Linked DNA regions of Homo sapiens: all the other regions are linked to region 2. Evidence: fine-mapped expression QTL. A gene starts in region 2. Each other region holds a variant in brackets. All regions are shown on one strand. Distances are from middle to middle.

Region 1 (8,000 bases), 68 kb after region 2:
CTGTGGCCCTGACTCACCCAGAGCCCTGAGCCAAGCGCATTCCTCTCTGACCTCACTTTCCCCACCTGTTCACAAGCCAGCCTTGCCTGGGTTCCTAGCTGGGGAGACAGATGAGTTGAGGGGAGTGAGGGTGATTAAGAACAATGGTGGGTGATGAAAGACAAAATTAAAGTCACTTTCAATAGCCAGGGAAGAAAAATGTCAACAAGTTCAGTACTTCTGAACCTTGGCTTAATCACGGTTCACAGATGCCCAGCCGAGACGACAATAGGGACTGTGGTCCAACTTATTATTTTCACTCAACAAGTGCTGAACCTTAGTGACAGGCTGCATCTGTGTGGATGAAGTGGTGCCTTCTCTAAATGTCATAAAGGTGCCATATAAACTAGCAGCGTTCTGCCAGGGAGGAGGGTCACTGGTCCCACTCCTCCCCATGGTACTGAGTCCCAGACACAGGGCAGGAGTATATTTGTGCATACAAGCTTAGTTAGTTAGAGTGTGCTGGCATCAAAATGTGTACATGTAGTTAAAGGTGCATGTGTGCGCTGCATACATGTGCACACCTATGAGTGGGCATGTGTGGGTGCATATTCTTGCATATGCCTGTGTACTTCTGTGCAAGTGTAGACATGTGTGAACAAATGTGAAGGTGTGTGGTGCTTCATGTAGTTATGTGTACCCACAGTGCCTGATTCCTGCCTACGCACTGCTATCCCTTCTCCTGGGATTTCAGAAAGAGGGAGGGAGCCTTAACACTCATGCTCCTCCAAGACAGTCTAAAATATTAGATGAAGGAAGCCTTGCTCTGGGGACTCTGGGAGCCTTGGGTTTGGACTCAGCCCTACTGAGTACTTGGACTGATGCCTTCCCTCTCTGGGTCTCACTGAAAAACTACTGGTCAGACTTGGAGGAACATGCAGGCCCCAGGGGGACTCTGGGACCTGGGCAGTGGCTCATCTCCCCAGTCAGTGAGCCCTCCTGGAGATCACTCACCTGACTTCTTTCAGCTGTGGACAGAGAGGCAAAGCTTTCACCAGGTGGCTGATGCCTCGGGCAGTGATTTTACTTCCTGCTAACCTACAGAGTAAGCAAAGATGGTGGGGAGGAACGAGGAGGGGAAAAGGGCGGGGCCAGGAATCTGCCTTGTGTAGGATTAAGGAGAGGGAGGAGAGTACCAGGCATCCCCAGCTGAAGACCCTTCTCAGCTCCAAGGCCTGGCTCACCCCAGCATCTGCAGCCTCCCCATTGTCGGCAAGCTCCTGGAGAGGGCTTCTGCAAAGGCATCCCCACACTTCCTGCTCTTAAAGCTGCCATAAGAAGAAGCGAAGTGTCAGAGGATCAGTGCTGGGCAGAGCTGAGAAGTCATCGCCATCCCCTCAGAGAGATGGGGCTTAATACAGTAGTACTAACAAATACATATTATGGCCGAGACTTCTAATCGTCCACCAAAGCCCATTCTCCACTTCATCTACAGCAATAGAGCTATCATGAGGAACATGGTTTCCCAGCCAGAGATCACATTTCCCAGCCTCCCTTGCAGCTCAGTGTGGCCAGGTGACTATGTTCTCACCAATGGAATGTGAGTGGAAGGGATGTATCCTAGTTTCAGGACTGAACTTTAATGCATTGACATGTTCCTCCATGCTCTTTCCTTGTTCCCAAGCCAGAGCACAGATATACCCATGACGTAGCTTTGACTGTGCAGATAGGATTCCCAAGGGGATAATGGAGCAAAATGGGAGGGACCTGGGTACCTGCATGACTGCGTGGAGCTGAGCCATTCCACTGACCTGGACCACCTACCTCTGACTCTTCCATGAGAGAGAAATAAAATTCTACATTATTTAACCTACTGTATTTGGGGAGGAGGTTTCTCTGTTACTGCAGCCTAGCCTTTTCTCTAGCTAATATGCACACTGAGCCTTTGCTCTGTGCTAGGCACTGTGCTACAAAATGTTTTTCATGCACCATCCCATCTCATTCTTGCAATGACCATATGAGTTGGCTATTGTTACAGATTCGTTTTAGGAACGAAGAAACTCTGGCCTAGACAGTGTGCATGTGTGTGCTCCATATACTTGCCCAAAGTCCACCAGCCTCTATAGACAGCCTGGATCTGTGGTTTCAGCCCATGATTGACAGAGAGACTGAGAGTCCAGAAACCACAGACAAGAGGAGGATCCATTTGGACTCCAGAGGTCCTGTCAAGGTATGGAGCTTCCTCTCTTGCATTGCAGGCCATTATGTTCTGATATTCAAGATTCTTATCCAGTCCTCTTGGCAGAGGTTTGCTAGACTGGTTGGCCTCTGCTCCCCCAAAAGCCCAATCCCCTCCCCGGTCCTCCTCCACTCTTACTCACCTGAGATTCTCTATCTGCCCACAGCCTACCAGAGCCTCAGGGCAGTGGGGCTCCAGGGGACAGCCATCAAAATCCAGGTGGATGGGGGCCTCCCTGTGCTCTAGGATGTTGGTCAGGGTGGCCAGGTCGGTGCAGGTCAGTGGGAAATTGTGGAAGGGCAGTTGATAGGGGAGGCTTTGTGCGGTGAGACTGGCCAGCTCAGGCTCCTGTGTCTCATCCACACAGTGACACAGCTCTACAACCTTTGGCCCTGTGAGCTTGCGGGTGGCCAACTTCTTCAACACCTGCACTACAGCAGCCTGCTTGGCACCCACACAGTCCTCATTGCCCTGCGCCAGGTGGCTAAGGAAGGGGCGGCAGGTGCAGGATGCCAGGCCCGCCAGGAAGGTGGGGAGGTGGTCTGAGAGGCCCAGTCTAGCTTTGGTCCGCTGTACCCAGCGGGAATGGAGGGTAACATACTGGGTAAGTGTGTCTTTGTTCACCTTGGGGCTGGCCATCAGGTGCAGGGCAGCAAGAAACTCCTGCAGGCTGAGGTGGGTGAAAGCATAGCCTGTCTGCTGGTGCCCAGGGCCTGTGCAGACGCAGAAGGAAGTCAGCAGGCTGTGAGTGGCCCCAAAAGCTATCAAGGGTGGAGCAATATCTTTTGCATAGAAGATAACCTTCCCTGTCTCCAGGCCCCTCAGGGCCACCTCCCCCAGGTCCAGTAGGGACGAGGTGGGCAAGTGCCCAGGGGGGCTGAGGGCGAGCACCATCTGCATATAGAGCTGAGTCATGTTGGGCAGGAGGGCCACAGACTGGCCTGGGGCGTGGTCAGGAAGCAGATGGTGGAGGCAGAGACAGGCGACTTGGCACAGTGCGGGCACCGCACACAGGCTTCGGAGACGTCCATTTGTCTGTAACTCCACCAGGGCCCCCTCCCGCGATGGCTGGGCGCTGAAGAAGTGATTCACATATTCTTCCACCCGTGGCCCATCAAAGCCCAACATGTGGACCATGGCTGCCTCTGCAGGCAGGCAGGCAGGCAGCTTCCCTGGACGGGAGGTAGCCATCACCCGGCAGCCAGGCAGGAGGGTCCCATTGCAGAGATGGGAGAAAAGGGTGAGGACTGGGCCTGGGCCATCAGGACCCATAGGCTGGAGGGCCTCATCTAGCCCATCAAAGATCAGCAGGACTTGGTCAGCGTTCTTCTCCAGGTACTGGAAGACAGTGTCGTGGTCCGATTCAGGGCTCAGGTACAGATCAAAAAGGAGCTCGGACGGTGTCAGGAACCTCGTGATCAAGTTGAGCTGGCGGAATTCAAAAAGGAACAGGGCCTGGAAACAGTTCAGATGGCCCTCTGCCCACTTCTGGCAGAGCCGGTGGGCCAGCGTGGTCTTGCCCATGCCAGCCTTCCCCAAAAGCACGGTCACCCTCGGGCCCTTGTTAACCCTGGTGTTGAAGAGGTCCGAGATGCTCACGTCAGCACCATCTTCCACCTTGACGTCCCCCATAATGGCCCCCTCCGGAGTGTCTAAGGATGCTGTGGCCCGGCGCAGGATTGGAGGGACATAGACCTGGTGGAAGGCGTGGGGCTGCCCTGACCCAGGGATTTGGCTCCTGTAGCGCTGCTGGGCAGAGGTCCGCAGGAGCTGCAGGTACTTCTTGGCCAACTCTGCAAGGGGCAGGGACATGGCATGAGGAGAGGACCCCCCGGCCCTCTGCTCATGTCTTCTTGCCCCAGTATTGGGCTGTTGGGAGCCTGTAGCCCCAGATGTGTATGTATGATGGGGTGAGGGTGGGGGTGTCAAGAGCACCATAGGGGGATCTGTGCCACCCCAACTTCCAGAAGGAATCAGTTCTAAGGGAGCATAGGCTCTCCGGTAGCTATTTAAACAGGCAGGTGGGAATGGGGAAGTGTGGGTCACGGTTCTATCCATTCTGCAATAGTACACGTGGTGTAAGGGTTCAGTAAGATGGGGGGAGGGGAATAGGGCACCTCCTTTGCAACATCTCTTTTTTTTCTTTTTTCCCAGAGACAGAGTCTCAGTCTTGCCCAGGCTCCAGTGCAGTGGCACGATCCTAGCTTACTGTAGCCGCAAACTCCTGGTCTCAAGTGATCCTCCTGCCTCAGCCTCCTGAGTAGCTGGGACTACAGGTGCACACCACCACACCCAGCTAATTTTTGTATTTTTAGTAGAGACAAGGTTTTGTCACGTTGGCCAGGCTAGTATTGAATTCCTGGGCTCAACTGATCCACCTGCCTCAGCCCTCCAAAGTGCTGGGATTACAGGTGTGAGCCACCGCGCCCAGCTACTTTGCAATATCTTATTGAAACAACCTCTTTCTGTAATATCTGGATCCCCAGTGCC[T/C]CTTCCCAATATTTCAGTTCTGCAATGCCCAGGGGTGAGCACTAACAACCTGTAGGCCTAGGCATTACCGATCGGAACTGTGGGAGCTGGGCCCCTACAGTGCCAGATGTTAACCTTTTAATTCCTGGGTCATTGAGAGGTCTCAGGTGACCCAGGGAAAGGGCTGGGGCTGCTTTTGGGGGAACCCTATGGGGAAAGGCCAAGGTAGTGAACTATTTTGAGCGGATGTGAATCCTCTGGTTATAGCCATGGTTGGCAGCAGTGGGGGCAGAGAAGGCTCTAGTTAGTGGGACAACTCGTGGAGAACGAGGACCATTCTGAGAACTGGTCAAGAATGAGAGAAGTCCCCTTTCTTCTCTCACTGGCCTGGCCTGCCCTAAGCAGCTCCATGTCTCCCCATGGGCCCCCAGGGCCTCTGTCTTGAAGGTTTCTCCCAGGCCTCCTCACCCCTCCCCATCCCTGCTCACCCCCAAACTGGTCTCCTCCCTGGGTCTCCTTCAACACTGAGGACATAGGGTGTCCCTGGAAAAGCCTGGACAGCGAAGCTGAGACCTGTATGGTGCTTCCAGCTCCTTCAGCGGAGCCCTCTTCAGAGAAGTCCCCATGCAGCCAGATGGGTGGGGAGCCCCTTCGCTGCCAGCCCAGGCCTCTCCTCTGCCTGTGCAAGACCTCCAGTCCTTTTCTCCTGGAAACTTGCGAGACAAGAGTCACTGGGCCTCTGGAGGCTTATTGGCAGGGGACAAGGTCCAGGGTCCGGGTCTTGGCCCCCAGGCAACCCCATCTCTCTGTTTATGTTCCTCCCCACACTGGTACCCACCTAGCTGCTGCTTCTTGCACTGCTTCCGGCGGGGTGAGGACCCACAGCTCTGATGTGGGCGCTTCAGGCCTGAAAAAGCAAAGGAAGGGGTGGAGGAGTGGGGTCTGGGGATCTGGGCTGAGGGGTTACCCAGAACCTTTGGGGAACTCCAGTCCACAGACAGGTGGCAGGCAGCCAAGTACACCCACATGCAGGGACTGGAAAGGCAGGCAGCAGGCAGAGGCTGGGTCAACACCAGCTTCTATTTGCAGAGTGGACTTCTAGGCACCCCCATTGGAAGGTGGATGTTCTGGGCCTGGCAGTCTTGCAGTCCAGGATGCAGGAAGCAGGGCCAACAGCCAGCAGCCCCCAGAAACACTCAGCTCCAAGCACTAAATGGCCATCTGTCCATCAGGGAAGGACCAAGCTCTATGGAAGCCGCCGGTGGTCATATAAGTGAAGTTCCCAGTGAGTTTGGCCAGGCCTGCAACCTCCCTCCTCTGTTAGGGTTTTATCATCCCGATTTCTTATCACCCACATTTCCTCACTTCCCTTAATAGTTTCTGGAGTCTTGTCTCATTGTATGGATTTTCAACAATCACTTTAATGCCTTTCTGGAAGAGTTTGAGAAAGGAAGAAGGAAAACAAGAAGGAAGGGGACCCAGAAAGGAAGGGAGGGAGAAAGGAAAGAGGACTCAGGAAAGAATTTTAAGAAGTCAAGCAGGGTCCTCCTACAGCTAAGCTAAGTGACCAATAGGAACAGCCCCTGGAGCAGGGCCCTGGGCTCCTTGTCCAGCTAGGAGGCTGGAACCAGTTCGAGAGCACTTCAATATCTTAACAAATCCTATATTAAAAAGGGACTCACTGGCCAAATATCAATCAGATCTGGTTACAGCCATGAGATAATGATGCCAGCTCAGTGATGCGGGCCTATTGGACCAGGGACTTGGACAGTTTTGATTCACTGGGGAGCTGAGGTTATAGGGTGGGTTTTCTGTTGGCATTACTGCCATGCACAGCGATAAGTAAAGTCAATGCTTCTGTAGAAATCAAGGTGCTGAGATGAAAGTGTGACCCACGAATCAGTAGGTGGTCATTATTTAATCACTGGCCCTTCCGAGCTCCTTCAGAAAATCAGCCAAAGGCTCCCCCGCTGAAGACAGCAGCTGTGGGTGAGTGTCAAGTCCAAGGTGTACAAGTCGGGAGGGGGTGGTTAGGGCTTCCCCATGAAGCCTGACACTTTGGGGCTGGGAGATGAGGCCCTGCGGGTTGCGGGCAGGAAAGTGAGAACAGGCTTCCTGAGGGGTTCCAGGTTAGACCCTTTAGAATTGGTAACGGGACAAGCTAAAGCCTTGAAAGTCACTGCAGGAGGAGGTGGGGCTGGGAGACACAGTTAGGGGCTTGACACACTTGCAAATGGGTCAGGGACAGACGAAGAGCATGGCCTATGAGAAATGGCTGTGACCAGCCACCACAGCCTCCACAGCCTCCTCCAGCTTGGAAGTGGGGACTTCACAGTGCTCACCACCCCCTTCCCACCCCCCAACTCCAGTCCTCACCATGGTGGAGCTGAGATTCAGGTTGGCTTTTCCCCTCAGCTCCCAGCTGGCTGGTGAACCCTGCAAGAGAGGGGAGAGTATAATGTGGTATGGGGCTGTCGAGGGATGCTGGGGACCAGCTCTGGCCTGGCGCCTGGCTCAGGGCTCATCTCACAGGGAGATACCCAGCAAGGGAGAACTAAATGGAACACTCAGTTATCTGTTGTGGAGAAAATGTGGTGGTGAGCTTTGAAGGCAGTGCTGGGCAGAAATGTGTGTATATGCAAGTGCATGCAAGTTTATGTATGTGTGTGCACAGGCATGCATGTGTTATGCATGTGGGCACACTTGCATGCATGTGTACATGGGTTTACGCACATACCCACATGTATATGCACTGTGTGTATCTGCATATGTCTGCACATATGTGCATGCGCCGCCCCGCCCCCCGCAATTCCCACACTCTGCCTTGAAGTAGGGTTCTTAAGTGAGTTCCCATTTTCTCTCCAAAAACGCTGTTGCCCCTCAATGTCCTGTGTTTCCCCTCAGTGCTGTGCAAACAGAAGGTGCCCAAGAAATCCCCACGGATCAGTAGAGGGCAGAAGGCGCTCCCCGTCACTGTTTCTGACCATGTTGCAAAACAAACAAACAAACAAAAACACCTCTAGCCAGGTGTGATGGCTCACATCTATAATCCCAGCACTTTGGGAGGCCAAGGGAGGAGGATCACTTAAGGCCAGGAGTTCAAGACCAGCCTGGGCAACACAGTGATGTCCTGTCTCTACAAAAGAATGAAAAATTAGCCTAATGTGGTGGCATGCACCTATAGTTCTACTGTAGTCTCAGCTACTTGGGAGGCTGAAGTGGGAAGGATCACCTGAGTCCTGGAGTTGGATGCTGTAGTGAGCTATGATTGTGCCACTGCACTCCAGCCTAGGCAACAGAGCAAGACCTTGTC
Region 2 (8,000 bases):
ACAAGGGCAGGAAATCTCAGAGAGTGGAAAATGTCATAAAGAGAATAAAGCAGGGTGAAGTGATTGTGATAGGGCAGTGTGGAGGAGGCCACATTTGAGCTGGGATGTTAATAGACCAGGAGCCCCAGGAGAGCAAGGCATTGGTCTCTCTCGTTCATGGCTGTATCCCAGCCATAGCTGGTGCCCAGCAGGTACTCAGTGAATATTTTTGAATGAATGAATGAATGGGCTCCTGAACCAAGCTAGGCATGTCCCCACCACAGGGCCTTTGCATGCGCTGTTTCCTCTACCTGTTCCCCAGCATGTGTAAAGGCCCTGTGGTGTGGACATGCCTAGTGTGGTTCAGAAGCCCATTCTCCCTACAACTCTACTGTATCCCTGCAGGCTTTTGTGTCTTATCAGGAGCTGAGGATATCTGGCCTGCCTGATGTGCCCTGGCTGTCCCCTCTCTAAAACACAGGAGGGAATATGCCCAACTCCCAGCAGACAACTCCTGCAATCCCTCTTTCCTTTGGTTGGACCCCAAGTCTTTTTTTTTTTTTTTTTTTGAGACATGGTCTCACTGTTTCACCGAGGTTGGAGTACAGTGGCACAATCATGGCTCACTGCAGCCTCGACCTCCTGGGCTCAAGCAATCCTCCCACCTCAGTCTCCCAAGTAGTTGGGACTACAGGCATGCACCACAACACCCAGCTAATTTTGTTTATTTTTTATTTTGGTAAAGACGGGTTTTTGCCATGTTGCCCAGGCTGGTCTTGAACTCCTGGGCTCAAGTGGTCTGACTATCTTGGCCTCCCTCAGTACTGGGATTACAGGTGTGAGCCACCACGCCCGGCTCTCCCATCAGTCTTTCAGAGACATGCCCAACCTGAGAAAAGTGTATTGTAAGAGTGCAGTGAATGCTGGGAGCTGAGCTACTGGGTTTCAAACTCTGGTTGGCCATGGGCTAGTTGAGCACCACACACTGGATGGCTTAGATTCTCTCACAGTTCTGTAGGCTACAAGTTTGAAATCCAGCTGTCAGCAAGGCCATGCTCCTTCCAGCACTCAGTATGGTAAGCCAGAGATCCCTCCAGAGACTCAAGAGGGCAAGCTCGTAATTCTCCCAGGATCCATCACTCAACATCACAGACTCATTTAACAGGAGGCTGCAAAGAGGGGCAGGTGCAGTCATTCCTCACACAAGGATTTACTGAGCACCTACAATGTGCCAGGCACTGTTCTAAGTGCTGGGACATGGCCCTAAACAAGACAGACACTGTTTGCTCTTGCCTTTTTGTGGATCTGACACCCTTTGGGGAGGGAGGCAGATAAGCTGGTGCACCAATGAGTAAAGAAGATGGTTTTAAAGAGTGGCAAATGCCCCAAGAAAAATACAACCAGGAGATGCAGCAGTGAGGAGGGATGGTGACACAATCTCACTAGTCAGTCTCATTGCAGACCTCAGAGCAAGTGTGGCCAGATAAGTAAGAAATGTTCCATGGTCGGGCACAGTGGCTCATGCCTATAATCCCAGCACTTTGGGAGACCGAGGTGGGTGGATCACCTGAGGCCAGGAGTTCAAGGCCAGCCTAACCAACATAGCAAAACCCCGTCTCTACTAGAAATACAAAAATTAGCTAGGTGTGCACCTGTGATCCCAGTTACTTGGGAGGCTAAGGCACAAGAATCGCCTGAACCTGGGAGGTGGAGGTTGCAGTGAGCTGAGATCACACCAGTGCACTCCGGCCTGTGTGACAGAGCAAGATCCTGTCTCAAAAAATAAATAAATAAAAAATAAAAAAAGGAAGAAAGAAAGAAATATTCCAGGGTATGGAACAGCAGTCTTCTTGACTCTGCCATGGGAGTGACAGCCGAGGTCCAGTGGCCCAATGAGGGCAGAAGACATTGGGATGTGAGCCAGGAGGCGCCTCTAACCTGGGCTCTGTCCTCAGGCACTGTGGGACCCCTATGTCCTCCCTTCTGGACAGGGAGGTGGGGAGATGTGTGATTGTGGACTTTTCTAGATGCTGCCTGCCAAGATCACAGGGTGACCTGGCATCCCAGCTCCCACAGAGCCCACACCACCGTGTCTGGCAGGGTTGGGGGAGATCCCACCTCCACTCCCTGAGGCCATATTCTGCAAGGGGGAAGGAGCTGGGTCCTCAAGGTGTTTTGCTCCTGATTCGGTAGCCCCAGTGCCATCTATGAATAAGGTTCAGGGGAGGGGAGAGGGACAGAGACCTCCATCAGGCTGGGGGCACCCTGACCCTGAGCTGAGGGCTTCTCAGATCGGGACCGTGCCTGGCGATGATGCCTCCTGCTCTGACAGGAGGGAGAAAATTACTAGAGAGTGCTCTTTTGTTTTCTGTTCACTCCTTAGAGCCCTGTGAGGCCAGCCAGATGTGGGGAAATGGGGACACCTGGATGAGACCTACCACTTCTCCTGGTCTTCTTTCACCCCAGGCCCCTGCCCCTAGAACAGCCCAGAAGTCCTGACGGGAGGGGGAGGAGCAAGCTGGCCTGAGACAACCCCACAAAGGATCCTGGATGCAGTCACCCACATCAGGCTTCTTAATATTCCCATGGATAATGACAATGACAGTTAACCAGGCACTCACCACGTACCAATAAGTGCTGGCACCCGAGTCCTTGCAATCTAATTTAATCCTACCTTTGCAGAAATACACAATTACCTGAAAAGAATATGAAGGTGTATAGATATAAAAACTGAGGACTGGGAGGAGGACCAGATGGGGTCCAGTACTTACTGTTTTACAGACATAGAAACCGAGGCTCCATTCTCAGCCATCTTCTTCCCTTATGCCCCAGTTTTTAATTCTCATGACATTCCAGAGGGAGTGTCCGTTGGAACACCACCAGAGACACCACACTTGCCACTCATGAAGTGCTCCCTACTTGCAGAACGTCTGCTCCCTGTTCCCCAGTTCCAGCCTCCCAGCCGCCCTACTGTAAGCTGGATCATGTCACAGTTTGCCTCATTTTACAGACAGAAAACCCCCCAAGTCCAAGGGGTGACAAGGCACGCAGACAGGAAGTGACGGCCGCAAAACGAACCCAAGCGTCCACATCCTTCGTCCCTGGTTCTTTCCATGGAGAAACCTGCCTGGGTGACCCCTTCCAATCCAGCTGGCTGGGGCGGTCCTGGAGCTCACCTGGACCTATGCCAGGCGGAATGCCATAAAACCACGCCTTCATGCTGTGTCCATTCTCCAGGAGGCAGGCCCCGGAACATCAGCCCATTTCACAGATGGTGACCCAGAGGGCCACAGGGGGGGAGGGTCTGGGCCAAGTTCCCTGTTGGTCATAGGTGGGGTTCAGACCCAGGTCTCCCAGGCCTCCCCATCAGGGCAGGCTGCAGCTGCCAGGGATTACAATCTGCGCACACCGCCTGTTTCCTGAAAACCATGGGCTCCCTGCAGTCCGTGAAGCTGTGGATGCCCAAGGGGCAGAAAAAGCCCCCCAACCTTTGATGACAGCACACACCTCTAAGGGAGCAAAAAACTAAGGCAGACAAAAAAAAGGGCGTTTTGTCTGGAAGATCATTCTTCCAGACCCCTTGTCCCTTCCCCCAGTACATATGGGGCAGGGGATTCAGATGCAAGATGAACACCCTATTAGCTACCAGAGCCAGCAGCATCTGTGACCTTGGGCAAATCACAGCCCCCTTTGAAGCAGCCCCTTCCCCATAGGAGAGCTTCTTGAACTCGGGGGGACGTGGAGCGAGGCTGGGGGATGGGGTGGGAAGAGCAGGGAAGAGGGTGTAAGACCCCTCTATTTTCAGAGGAGCATCGCTGTGAGAAACGGGGAATAAGAGAGGGCCTTGTTCGCCCGCTCTCTCCATGCCCACCCCCACACCCCCTTTAAACACACAGGTGCCAGACAGCTTTTTCGCAAAAACTAGTTTGCAAACACACTCCGACTTCTGGGAAGCTGCCCAGCTCCACTCCCCCTCTGCGCTCCCAGTACCGGGGCTGGGAGCCGGCCCTCCGGCAGTTGCCTGGGGCAGGGGGTGGGTGTTGAGGGGTGGGAGGAGGGCAGAGGGGAGCGGAGAGGAGCCAGCGCCCGCCGAGAGCCAGGGCGACCTCACGCCTTCAGCAGCTGCGGCAGCGGCGGGTCTCCACCTCCCGTACGCCCTCCAAGCCCCTCGGGGCGGGTGGAAGGGTCCCCAAAGCAGCTGGGCTCGGACCCCCGAGGGCGCCCCCCTCCCCAGGGACCCCGCCCGCCCTTCCCCGCAGTCCGGGAGCCGGCGGGGCGCCCCCGCGTGGCCGGGTCGGAGCTGAGTCACCGAAGCGCCGGAGTCCGGGTTCGCGCTGGCGGCGGGGGCTAGAGCGCCGCAGCCCCCCGAGGCGGAACCCGGGTTCCTTCGGACCCGCAGCTGGATCAAAGAGCCCAGCCCCAAGGCCGAAGTTGGGCACTCACGCCAAGCTGCCCCGCCTGCCCGGGCCCCACTCACCGCAGGTCCCGCGGGCGCCACCGCCCTCACCGCACGGCTGCCGCTGCCCGCGCTCCGAGCCGCCCGGGCATCCCCGGGAGCTGCTCCTGCTCGGCCGGGCCCGCGGGCGCGGGACAGGCTCAGGGCGCTGCCCGCGCGGCCACGGCCCGCTCGCGTGCGCTCCCAGCCGCTCGGGGTCCGGTCCTCCTCCCGGGCCGGGCGGGCGGGCGGCGGCGGCGGCGGCGGCTCGGGCTCCTCCCTCCGGCCGAGGAGGGGAGTGGGGAGGGAAGTGGGAGGCGAGGCGGGAGCTTCCTGGAGGGGCGCGCGCTCTCCCACGGGAGGAGCGGGGGCGCTGTCCCGCCCGCAGTCCGCCGCTCCCAGCCCGCGCCCGGCGCGCCGCGGCACTCGGGGCGCCTGGCACCGAGGGGGCCCGAACGTTCGGGCCGAACGCGAGGGTCCGAAGGTTCCAGGCTGGGACTCAGGTGGCTGAGGATCGGAACAACGCGGCTTCGCGCCCTCCCCAGGCCTGCTTTGCCCGAGCCTCTGGCACCTCCGAGTTCCGAGCGCCGTGCGCTCAGGGCCACCGACGCGGGAACAGAGGGGTGGCCTCAGCCCGGGCCTGCGGGGCCCCAGGGCCGCTTGGACCCCCAGCGCCGATGGGAGCGGCGCTGCGCCCTCGGGGCAACACCCAAGGCTGGGTTCTGGGTTGTATTGGGCAGGATTAGGGCCGCAGTGTTTTCTTCCCTTTTTTTTTTCAATAGCAAAAGAGCTCGGCATTTTCTTGCCGCCAGAGATTGGAAATATGACATATTTCTCTGACACAGACGATAAGATAAAGACGGATCCGAACTGGGCCTGGGTCTACTCATCCGTGCGGAAAATTAGGCGAGTCTTTAAGGCCTTGGAGCCCAGGCCTCCTTTTCCCTAGAAGAGGCACCAATTCTTAGGACACTTGTCTGTCGCTGGGCGCTCAAGCCTTTGGCCACTCCGCGGTATTTAGGTGCTCTCTGGGCAAGTTCACCACCGGGCATCAGAAGGCTGAGCCTCACGTAACCAGATTCTGGGGGGCGGGGCTTTCCCGGGGATCTCAAGGCCATGTCCACAGCCCTTGGCCCTGGGGCTCAAGGACTGGGCAGCTGAGGGTTAATGCCGAGTGCTTCCATTGTGGCTTTTCGATTCCAGGCAGGTGAGGGTTAATGTGGGAGCCTCGCGCGCTGCAGCCTGTGAGCCTCCCTCCACGTCTGAGTCACTGGCACTTTGCAGCCTTACAGGGGCCGAGACTAAACAGCCCCCGGGGCTCTGAGCTTTGTTCTCTGCCTGCCTGTCACCCATCCATCTTTCCTTTCTCCAAGCTCTCTTCACCTTTCTTCCACCGAAGCCAATCAAAGCCCTCTGCCCCGCTCTGGGGCAAACCAACCTATCAACCCAACTCCAGCCCCGCTTCCTCCAGGAAGACTTTCCTGATTGCTCTGGCCTCAGAATCTGTCTCTTGTCTTTCCAGCAGCAGGAGAGCCAGGCACTGGGATGGACAGTGGTGAACCAAAGCAGATAGTCTCTCTCAAGTTGCTCACCTGTGGGGGCCAAGATCAGGACCCAGGCCATCATATCACCATATGAAATGTGCAAAGATTGGAGGTAGGGTGGCACAGAAGACCCAACTCAGCCATGGGAGTCAGCGAGGCTTCCTTTAAGAAACCTGAAGGATGAGATAGTTGGGCCTGTCAAGGAAGATACTAGATCCCTAGCCAAGGAGGCAGAGTACAAAGGCCAGGGGTCACAGCAATTCCACTCCTAGATATCTACCCGGGAGAAATGAAAACATATGGCCACACAAAACATACACAAATGTACGTAGCAGCATTATTCATAATAGCCAAAAAGTGGAAACCACGCAAATGTTCATCCACTGATGAATGGAAAAACAAAATGTGGTATATCCACACAACATAGAATATTATACAGCCATAGAAAGGTACGAATTACTGGCCAGTTGTGGTGGCTCACACCTGTAATCCCAGCACTTTGGGAGGCCAAGGCGGGCGATTACTTGAGGTCGGGAATTCAAGACCAGCTTGGCCAACATGGCAAAACTCTGTCTCTACTAAAAATATAACAATTAGCCAGGCGTAGTGGCAAGAACCTGTAATCCCAGCAATTCGGAAGGCAGGAAGGAGAATCACTTGAGCCCAAGAGGCGGAAGTTGCAGCCAAGATTGCGCCACTGTACTCCAGCCTGGGTGACAGAGGGAGATTCCATCCCCCCTCCAAAAAAAAAAAGAAAGGAAAAAAAGAAAGGTGGGAAGTACTGATACATGCTACAGTATGGACAAACTTGGAAAATATTATGCCCAGTGAAAGAAGCCAGTCTCAGACAAATATTACATGGCTCCATTTAGATGAAATGTCCAGAATAGACAAATCCACAAACAGACAAAGCAGATTTGTGGTTGCCTCGGCCGGGGAGTGGAGAATGGGGAGTGATTGCTATTGGCAAAGGGTTTCTTTGGGAGATGATAAAAAATGTTCTAAAGTTAGATTCTAGGCAGAGTGCGGTCCTGCCTGTAATCCCAGCACTTTGGGAGGCCGAGGCAGACAGATTACTTGAGGCAAGGAGTTCAAGACCAGCCTGAGCAACATAGTGAGACCCCACCATCTCTACCAAAAAAAAAAAAAAAATTAGCCGGGTGTGGTACCTGCCTGTAGTCCCAGTTAGGAGGCTGAGGTGGGAGGATTGCTTAGGAGGTTGAGGCTGTGGTGAGCCATGATCACACCACTGCACTCCGGCCGGGGTGACAGAACAAGACCCTGTATGAAAAAAAAAAAAAGTTAGATTATAGTGATGATTGCACAACTGTAGGTATTCTTAAAACCACTGACTTACACACTTTAAAAGGACAAATGTCATGGTGTATGGATTATATCCCCATAAAGCTATCTTTAAAAAAAAGGCCAGGGATCAGGAGAGCCCTGAAGAAGTTGATTAAGGCCAAGGATCCATCACAGGTTGATTCTACATGCTTTATCCTCATTCCACACCCAACACAAGACTGCAAAATGTTAAACGAAGTCTTTCCCTGCCCAGGTGGAGACCTCTCAGTGCACAGTGGGAGGCCTGAAGGCCCCGAAATAGACCCATGTCAGGGTATGTGTGTCAACACCTGCCATCTGGGTGTTTATTTTCACAGTCCAGGCTGTTTGGACAAACGGATCAGAATACCCAGGTTTGCCCATGCATGTCAGTGTGCTCGTGAATGAAAGACACATTGAAGGAGCGCCAGCTGTTCAGGGATCTGGCTGGGCCAGGAGTGTGTGAGGACTGGCGGAGGGAGGGTGTTCCAGTTATTTATGTTGCATCGCAGATCACCCCAAAACTTATCCCTCACACTTCCGGGGTCCTCAGGGCTCATCGAGGGCAGGTGTTGCACAGTGTTTCCCATACAGTTGCAGTCAGATCATGGTGGTGGCTGAAATTGTCTAGAAGGCTTTCTTGAACATATGGCTATCACTGGACGCTGGCTGTCATCTGGAACCTCAGCTGGAATTGTCAGCTGGAACACCTACCTGAG
Region 3 (8,000 bases), 38 kb before region 2:
GTGACCCTCCCTTCCCCTCCCCATCTCTCTTTCTTTCCTCCCACCTCAGCTTCCTGAGTAGCTGGGACCACAGGCATATGCCACCATGCCTGGGTAATTTTTTTAATTTGTAGAAATGGGGTCTCCCTCTATTGCCCAGGCTGGTCTTGAACTCCTAGGCTCAAGTGCTCCTCTTGCCTCAGCTTCCCAAAGTGCTGGGATTACAGGCATGAGCCACAGCATCCGGCCTCTAATAGTTTCTTAACTGTCCCTAGGAGGCTCAGAAATCCTCTTAGGCCCAGGGGTGGGGATGAACACAGACACCATACTCACTTCCCAGCCCCTGCCTCCCCCTGATCCCCCGCCAAGTACTCCCAGAGCAGGGCTGGCCTTCCCAGCAAGGGGGCGGGTGGGAAGGAGGTGAAAGCAGGTGTGTCTGGTGCCACCCTCACCTCCTCCTGGTTTACACAGGACTTCCTGTCAGTGGCTTCCTGTAATTCTCACTGAACCACCCAGTAAAGTGAGAAGAGCAGCTGTCATAGTTATCCTGGAGCAGGTAAGGAGGCAAAGGCCCAGGAGGTACAGTGACCTTTCCAAGGTCCCACAGCTAGGAAGGGCAGCAGCTGGCCTTGAATCCAGGACTATCTGACTCCAAACTGCAGCTCTTCCCCCTCTGTCACTCTGAGCAACAGTAAGGGGGAGGGGAAAGGAGAAAGAAATGAAAACCTGTCCTCTGCCCTCCCTCCACCCAGGGAGCTGGCCAGGCCCGTAGCAAACACAGGGCAGCTGCAGGTGGGTCTGACACTCACCTGAGCAGAAGGGGTTGGTGGGGTTGAAGTTGATGGCAAACTCATGGGAGACCTGAAACGCAGAGAAAACGCTGAGCTGCAGCCTCCCGCCCCCAAACCCAGACCCAGGCCACCACCCACTGCCAGGCCAAGGCTCCCTTTGAGAGCACCGGCTCATAACCCCCACCCCTACCCTCCTCTAGGCCACTGATACCCCCCACATCTGCTTTTCACCTCCACTGCTGGGTGTGACCCACAGAGAGGCCCAACCACCCTCTCCTCATAGTGGAGGAAACTGAGACCCTGGCAGGTCACCCTGGGCTCTTCTGGGGACTGGGGCTGCCTATGCCCCATCAGTCCTCTAAGAGTCCCGGGTGGGACAGGGATTTCCCTGTGGGCCAGGGTTCCAGGATGCTCCCTCATCACTGCTACAGCTGGATGTGGGCTCCACAACTAGAGCACCGCTTCTCTGGGCTTCAGAGGCTTTTCCTACCTTAACAGTAAGCAAAGGGGCTTAGAGGGGAGCCTGCCTTGCGCCAGACAGCCAAACGGGGGTGAGCTGACAGCCCACTCAGAGCTGACCTGGCGATCAGGGAGTGTAAGGGGGCTGCAAGGGGATCAGATGGGGCTATCATAGGCTCCCTAGGGACTCATCCTGCTTCTCTGCCTCCAGGCCCAGCACCCAGCCCCAGAGGATCATCAGAGACTGACCCGGACACTCCGGGACACTGCTGCACCCATCACATCCGGCTGCTGCTGCTCGCATGGCTTCGGGGTATAGAAGGACTCATAACTGGCCCCGTTCAGGGCTGTGGGTGAGACTGCAGTGCCTGCAGAACCCAAGGCCTCGGGAGACGCTGCAGAGCTCAGATGGGGGACAGTCCCTCCTTTCTTCCCTCTCTTGCAGCCCCACAGCCCCAAATCCCCCTCAGCCCCCTTCCTACCATGTACCACATCCGCATTCACTGCTGTGCAGGAATCCCCTTACTCCTTCCTCACAACACCCCAATGGAAGGGCAGCTGTTATCACCTCATCTTATGGATGACAAAACTGAGACACAGAGTGGACTAGAATTTTCCCACATTTCCTGGCGGGCAGAGCTGGGACTCGAACTGAGGTCAGGCTGCTCCCAGAGCTCACGCTAACCTCCAAAGGCATTCCTCCCCCAGGGATTTTCAATGAGGAGGGTGGAGGGGTGCCCCGGTCCTCAGCTGCAGGAGGAGGGCTTTTGTCTGGGCACAGACAATCCCAGACAGACTCTTCAGCTCCAAGACATGACGATGGGGGTACTGGGAGGCTCTCCTGCATCCAGCGTCCCCATTTTACAAATAAACAAACCGAGGCCCAGAAAAGGGAAGCCAGGCACCAGAGCCACACAGTCGAACAGGCCTGAGACCCAGTGCCCTCCCCTCCCCTGGGGGTGGGAGTTGGTCTTACTCCTGGGGGAGAGGGCAGGGACCCAGCAGTGGGGTTCAGTCTGGCCTCCCTGGCAGCCCAGGGGAGGGGAGGTGGTGGGAGGACTCCTCCCCGTTTCAGGCAATGGGGTTTTCTGTTCTTTGCTGTCTGCTTTAGGCGCCCGGCACAGAGCCAGTCCCCTGGTGTCCCTCTTGGGTCCTGTCCCTGTCCAGGGCCCACTTCACCCTGTCCCCAGTCTGGGCTCCAGGTTTGGGGGCTGGAGGTCCCTGTTGCCATGGAGACTTCCTGAGCCTCTATAGAGATTACGAGGGGGGCTTGTATGGAGGGGCTGAGAGAGAAAATGGTTGCCAGGGAAACAGGACTCCCTTGGGCCAAAGTCTTCCTGAAAAATCAGATTTTAGGAGATTTTAGAGACCACAGTGGGAAAGCCCCCTGCTGATAGGGGTGGAGGAATATTTTGCCTTCTCGGGCCCCCCGCTCTTCATCCCCACTCTTCCCCCCTCTTTATTTGGGGAGGGCCCAGCCTTGCGGTCAGGGGGGCTGTGGAAGGTTGTCCATCTGCCCCAGAGGCCCCAGAGGTTGTCTCCTCCAGCAACTCCATTTCATAGCTGGAAAGAGTGAGGTTCCCAGAGGGCCAGGGAGTGCCCAGGTCACACAGTGGGGCCTGGGGACAAGTGTCCATGCTACCAGGAGTGGCAGCTCAGCCCCTCCCATACTGGTTGCCCTGGTTTGCCTGAGAAAAGTCATAAACAGAACAAGTTCCTGGAGGCCACAGAAGCTGATGAGGGGCCCCTGGGGACTGGCTGCCAGCCACAGGCCTTTGTCCTGGGACTCCCTATTGCCTTCTGACAGCCAATGGCCCTGTTCACCCAACCTGGCCTGGCTCAGCCTTGAGGTCAGGGAGTTACTTCAGGCTCAGTTCCCTGTGGCCCTGGCTGAGGCAGGTGGTAGAGGCAGCGGGTGGGGCATGGAGAAAGCCCAAGGGATCTCAGAGTGACTGTCCTCTCTGAGCCTCAGTTTCCCCACCTGCAGAGTATGCTCCCCCTCCTCCCAGACCTTTGCACAGACTGTGCCTTCTGCCCAGATCCCGTTCCTCATCTGAGTAACTCTGCTCACGTTGAAGGGCCAAGACCTCATGCCATCTCCAAAGGGAAACGCGTCCTGAGACCCTCAGCCACTCTCTGGGGCAGGAGTTCTCTCTGGGATCATCTGGGCCACCCTCAGGGAGAAACTGAGGTCTCAAAGGCAGGCAGCCTGGTCACGTGCTCCTTCTGGTTCCTTCTAGCTTCCCACCCTCAGAGAACCGACCCCTCTGTTTGCTCAGGCCTGGGGTCCCAAATTTGGGCTGGGTCCCAAATTCATTCCGTCAACAAACAATGGCACTGCACACTGCAGGCCAGGTGCTGGGATGCAGGCAGAAAGAAACCCAGTGCCTTCCCCAGGCAATCACAAACAAGTCACAGAGTTCCATGAGGGCAGGGCTCTGGGCAGGAAGAAGGGCCCCCATGTGAGTGTGAGCATGGCTCCCAGAGGGCAGGCCACTCCCCGAAATTCTAGGTGAAAATCGGTGGCAGAAGCCCAGGAGAGGGAGCAGCGGGCTGAGTGAAGGCCATGTGCAAAGGCCCTGAGGTGGGAGTGAATGAAGGAGCTTCAGGCAGCAGGAGTGAGGCGAGTCAGAATGCGAGAGAGGGTGAGGGGCCAGGAGGGGCCAGGCCTGGCGGCTCCCATGGCAGGGGGAGGTGGGACACAGCATCTGTCCTTTCCTAGCCTGGACGCAGCATCTTTCTTGGCACCGCCGGGCACTCCAGCCTGGCCAAGCCCTGGCCTCCCCAGCATCGCCCTGTGACATTTACAAGGAGGCTTTTGCTCAAGAAAACATCTCATTCAGTTCTTTGAAAGCTGGCTGGTGTCCTAGCAACGGGCTCGTGCTGGGCCCAGCCGCACCAGCTCGCCCTG[C/T]CCCCCGAATGGCATCACTGTGGCCCAGCTTTGGTCCCATCTGAGGCGTAGCCTCACACCACAGGGAGCCAGGACACCCACATCTCCTGCCCTGGCCCTTGGGCCACTCCCCGAAATTCTAGGTGAAAATCATCCTCCCCAGAGAGGACCAGAGAGGACAGGAGGCAAAAATTCACTCTGGAAACAGCAATGCGGCACAGCAGGGCAGACAAGAAGGGGCACTGGCCGAGCGAGACCCATGTGCAGGCTTAGGAGCTCTCTGGCCTCACACCCCACAGGCTTCTCATGGGGAGGCAACAGTGTCTGAGAAGAAACTTTAGAGTCCAACTGCCCAGTTGGTGAACATGGCCTTGGGCAAGTCATTTTGAGGCTCCAAGCCTCAGTTTATTGCCCTGTAAAATGGGACAGCATTCCCTGCCCATCTGCAGCGACTCCCCAGCATCACAGCTTCTGCCCTCATTGACGTCTCCATCTCTGAGCCACCAAACCACCCCTCCCCTGGTGCCCGTGGTTCTATGAGGAGCCCCCGCCTCCTGCCCCAGGACTACCCACAACCACACCTCAGGGACCCCCGCTTCAATTCACCTCCACGCCTCTCCTGGCTCCTCCTCAGCCTTTAGACCTGCTTGACCTAACCCTTCCCCTCCCTCACAGCCAGTTGACTTCCACGCTGGCTGACTGCCACACTGGCTGATGTCTCCATGCCCTTCTCCCCTCCCCATCTTGTCTCTGCCATAATGGCCCCAGCCATGGTCAGTGAAACGGATGGTCTCTTCTCAGCCTTACCTCACCAGGCCCAGGGGCAGCCTCCAACCCCACTCCCTCCTCCCCGAGCCCTGACTGCTTGGCTTCCTCAACGATCAAAATGGGTTCATAACAGGGCCTACCTCATTGGCTTTGGTGAGAATTAGTTGAAACTGGTAAAGCAGGCAGAGTGGTATCTAGAACATTCTAAGGGCCCAATAAATGCTGCTACTTATGGGTTTGCTTTCTGCCCCTCCCTCCTTCACTTCCTCCCTGCTCTGCCCCCGGGCTCAGTCTCCGCTTCATCTGCCTGGCTCTCTCATGCAGCTGTCTCTTTTTTTATTTTAATTAATTAATTAATTAATTTTTTAGAGACAGAGTCTCACTCTGTCACCCAGGCTGGAGTGCAGTGCACTCATAGCTCACTGGGCTCCAGGGATCTTCCTGCCTCAGCCTCCCGAGTAGCTGGGATTACAGACTCCCGCCACCACACCTAGCTAATTTTTGTATTTTTAGTAGAGACGGGGTTTCACCATGTTGGCCAGGCTGGTCTCGAACTCCTCACCTTGTGATCCACCCTCCTCAGCCTCCCAAAGTGCTAAGATTATAAGTGTGAGCCACTGCACCCAGCCAACTTTTAAATTTTGTAAAGCCAGGGTCTCACTGTGTTGCCCAGACTGGTCTTGAACTCCTGGCTCAAGCAATCCTCCTGCCTTGGCCTCCCAAAGCATGAAATTACAGGTGTGAGCCACTGCACCCCGCCTCATGTGGCTGTTTCTCACTCCACCTGTCTCCCTAGCAATCTCATCCTCCCAGAGGTGGCACCATGGGTCCTGGCCCAGGTGGCCAGGTCTCTCTCTGTCTCCCCAGAGCCCAAACCCATTGACCCATCAACCACTTATCTTTTTTTTTGTAACAGGGTCTCACTCTGTTGCCCAGGCTGGAGTGCAGTGGCACGATCTCGGCTCACTGCAACCACTGCCTCCCGAGTTCAAGTGATTCTCCTGCTTCAGCCTCCCAAGTAGCTGGGATTACAGGCATGTGCCACCACGCTGGGCTAATTTTTGTATTTTTAGTAGAGACGGGGTTTTGCCATGCTGGCCAGGAAGATCTCAAACTCTCTGACCTCAAATGATCCATCTGCCTCAGCGTCCCAAAGTGCTGGGATTATAGGCGTGAGCCACTGTGCCCAGCCATCATCCACCTTTCTCCTGGGACTCCCACCTTACCATCTCCCCTGCTGAGCCTAGCACCCACCCCGTTCCTCATCTCAGTAAGCAGCACCACCCCCGCCTCAGTGCCCAGTTGGAAATCTTGGTGACCTCTTCGGCCCACACTCACTTGGTCACACAGAAAGTCCTGGCCTCTGCCCTGAGTTTCCTTGCCTTCGCCCCTTCTCTCCACCCTCCACTCTGCCCACTCTCGCCCTAGCCACGCCCCACTCAGCAGCCAGGAGAGGCCTTTAGAAATGCCAATCTGCTGATGAGCCCCTATGTGGTCCCTGCAGGGGTCCCCGTGGCCCTTTAACGCCCACATCTGTCTCCACCCTGCTCACCTCCAATGGAGGGTCTATCACCCACCTCTGCCAGTTCCTCCAGCTCGTCCTGCAGGCTTCGCACAGTCTGTTCTCTGCCCTGAAGGCTCCCCCTGCCCCACTGCCACCTCTAGTCACTCTGCTACTTCCCTTTCCCCTCTTGGCTTAGAGCTTGCCCCCTCCAGGAAGCCTGATGGCCCCAAGCTGGGTTGGGTTACCTCCTCGGCTCCCCACAGGCCTACGGTGCCCCCACCTCAGCACCGATGACACTACCTGTCTTTAGTGTTGCCATATAGAATACAGGATGCCCACTATGACTCAGAAACAGAAAACAAAAAACTGCATGTTCTCCCTTATAAGACGGAGCTAAACAATGGGTGCACACAGAACAGACACACAGAGGGGAATAACAGACACTGAGGACTCCACACAGCGAGAGGATGGAGGGGTGACGGATGAAATGCCACCTACTGGGTACAATGTACATTATTTAGGTGATGAATACACTAAAAGTCCATATTTCACACAATACGTCCTCGTAATACAACTATACTTGTACCCCTAGATCCATACAAAACCTTGAATTTCAGATAAACAATGGATGATTTAAGTATAAGTATGTCCCATGAAATATTCAGGACATACTTATACTTTAAAAATTGTTTATCTGCACTGGTCACAGTGGCTCAGGCCTGTAATCCTAGCACTTCGGGAGGCTGAGGCCGGTGGATCACCTGAGGTCAGGAGTTTGAGACCAGCCTGGTCAACATGGTAAAACTCTCTACTAAAAATACAAAAGTTAGCTGCGGGGTGGTGGTGGGCACCTGTAATCCCAGCTACTCGGGAGGCTGAGGCAGGAGAATTGTTTGAACCTGGGAGGCGGAGGTTGCTGTAAGTGGAGATTGTGCCACTGCACTCCAGCCTGGGCAACAGAGCAAGACTCTGTCTCTAAATAAATAAATAAATAAAAATAAACACATAAAAATAAACATTGTTTACCTGAAATTCAAACTTAACTGGGTGTCTTGTATTTTGATTTGCGACATCTGGCAATCCTATCTGTCTCCCCCACTCCACATGGGTCTCATAAACAGAGAACATAACGTGCTGCCCCGTTACAGCCTCAGTGCCTGCCCAAGGATCAGGCTTGAGAAATGAGCGTGGCCTGGGGTGAACACAGGGAAGGCAGGGCAACAGGGCCCCAGCCCAAGACCTTTCCAGAGCTGATCCCCGAGAGGCCACACACACAAACCCCATCTCAACCAAAAGGAAACTAACTCCGGTTTCACTCACCTTCCAGTCTGGGGGTAACTGGGCCCCGAATCCCAGAGCTGGAAACATCTTATCACTAATCAGAGAGAGAAGAGAAACACACTGTAAGACACCTGAGGACACCACCCGACCCTCTGCCCAGGGCTGGGCCCACTCTGCCTCATACACTTCCAAGGACAGAAAGGAGGAGCTCACCACCTCTAGAAAAAGCTGTTAGGATCATCTACCTAATGAGCCCAACCCACCTCTGGGGACCTGGTGAACATGTGGCCTGACCACATCTATACCTGTGGCAGACACGACAATGGTA

The links.
Region 1: its variant is fine-mapped to the expression of CPNE2 in whole blood (TOPMed, PIP above 0.99).
Region 3: its variant is fine-mapped to the expression of CPNE2 in tibial nerve (GTEx, PIP 0.97).

What each region holds. Positions count from the first base shown.
Region 1 is chr16:57,021,379-57,029,378 of GRCh38, reverse strand. It overlaps NLRC5 (NLR family CARD domain containing 5), which reads right to left. Exons shown (of 49, transcript NM_001384950.1): 4 at 7,064-7,123; 5 at 5,526-5,594; 6 at 2,361-4,011; 7 at 1,224-1,307; 8 at 994-1,077. Among named protein-coding and RNA genes, the nearest start is that of NLRC5, 36 kb to the right of the region's middle. RefSeq lists an enhancer at 2,410-2,928. The variant T/C (reference allele first, on the strand shown) is at 4,709.
Region 2 is chr16:57,089,247-57,097,246 of GRCh38, reverse strand. CPNE2 (copine 2) reads right to left here and starts at 4,664. Exons shown (of 16, transcript NM_152727.6): 1 at 4,457-4,664. RefSeq lists silencers at 4,173-4,582, 4,643-4,692, 4,803-5,052, 5,073-5,142.
Region 3 is chr16:57,127,615-57,135,614 of GRCh38, reverse strand. CPNE2 (copine 2) reads right to left here. Exons shown (of 16, transcript NM_152727.6): 12 at 7,712-7,766; 13 at 789-840. Among named protein-coding and RNA genes, the nearest start is that of CPNE2, 39 kb to the right of the region's middle. RefSeq lists an enhancer at 333-382. The variant C/T (reference allele first, on the strand shown) is at 4,141.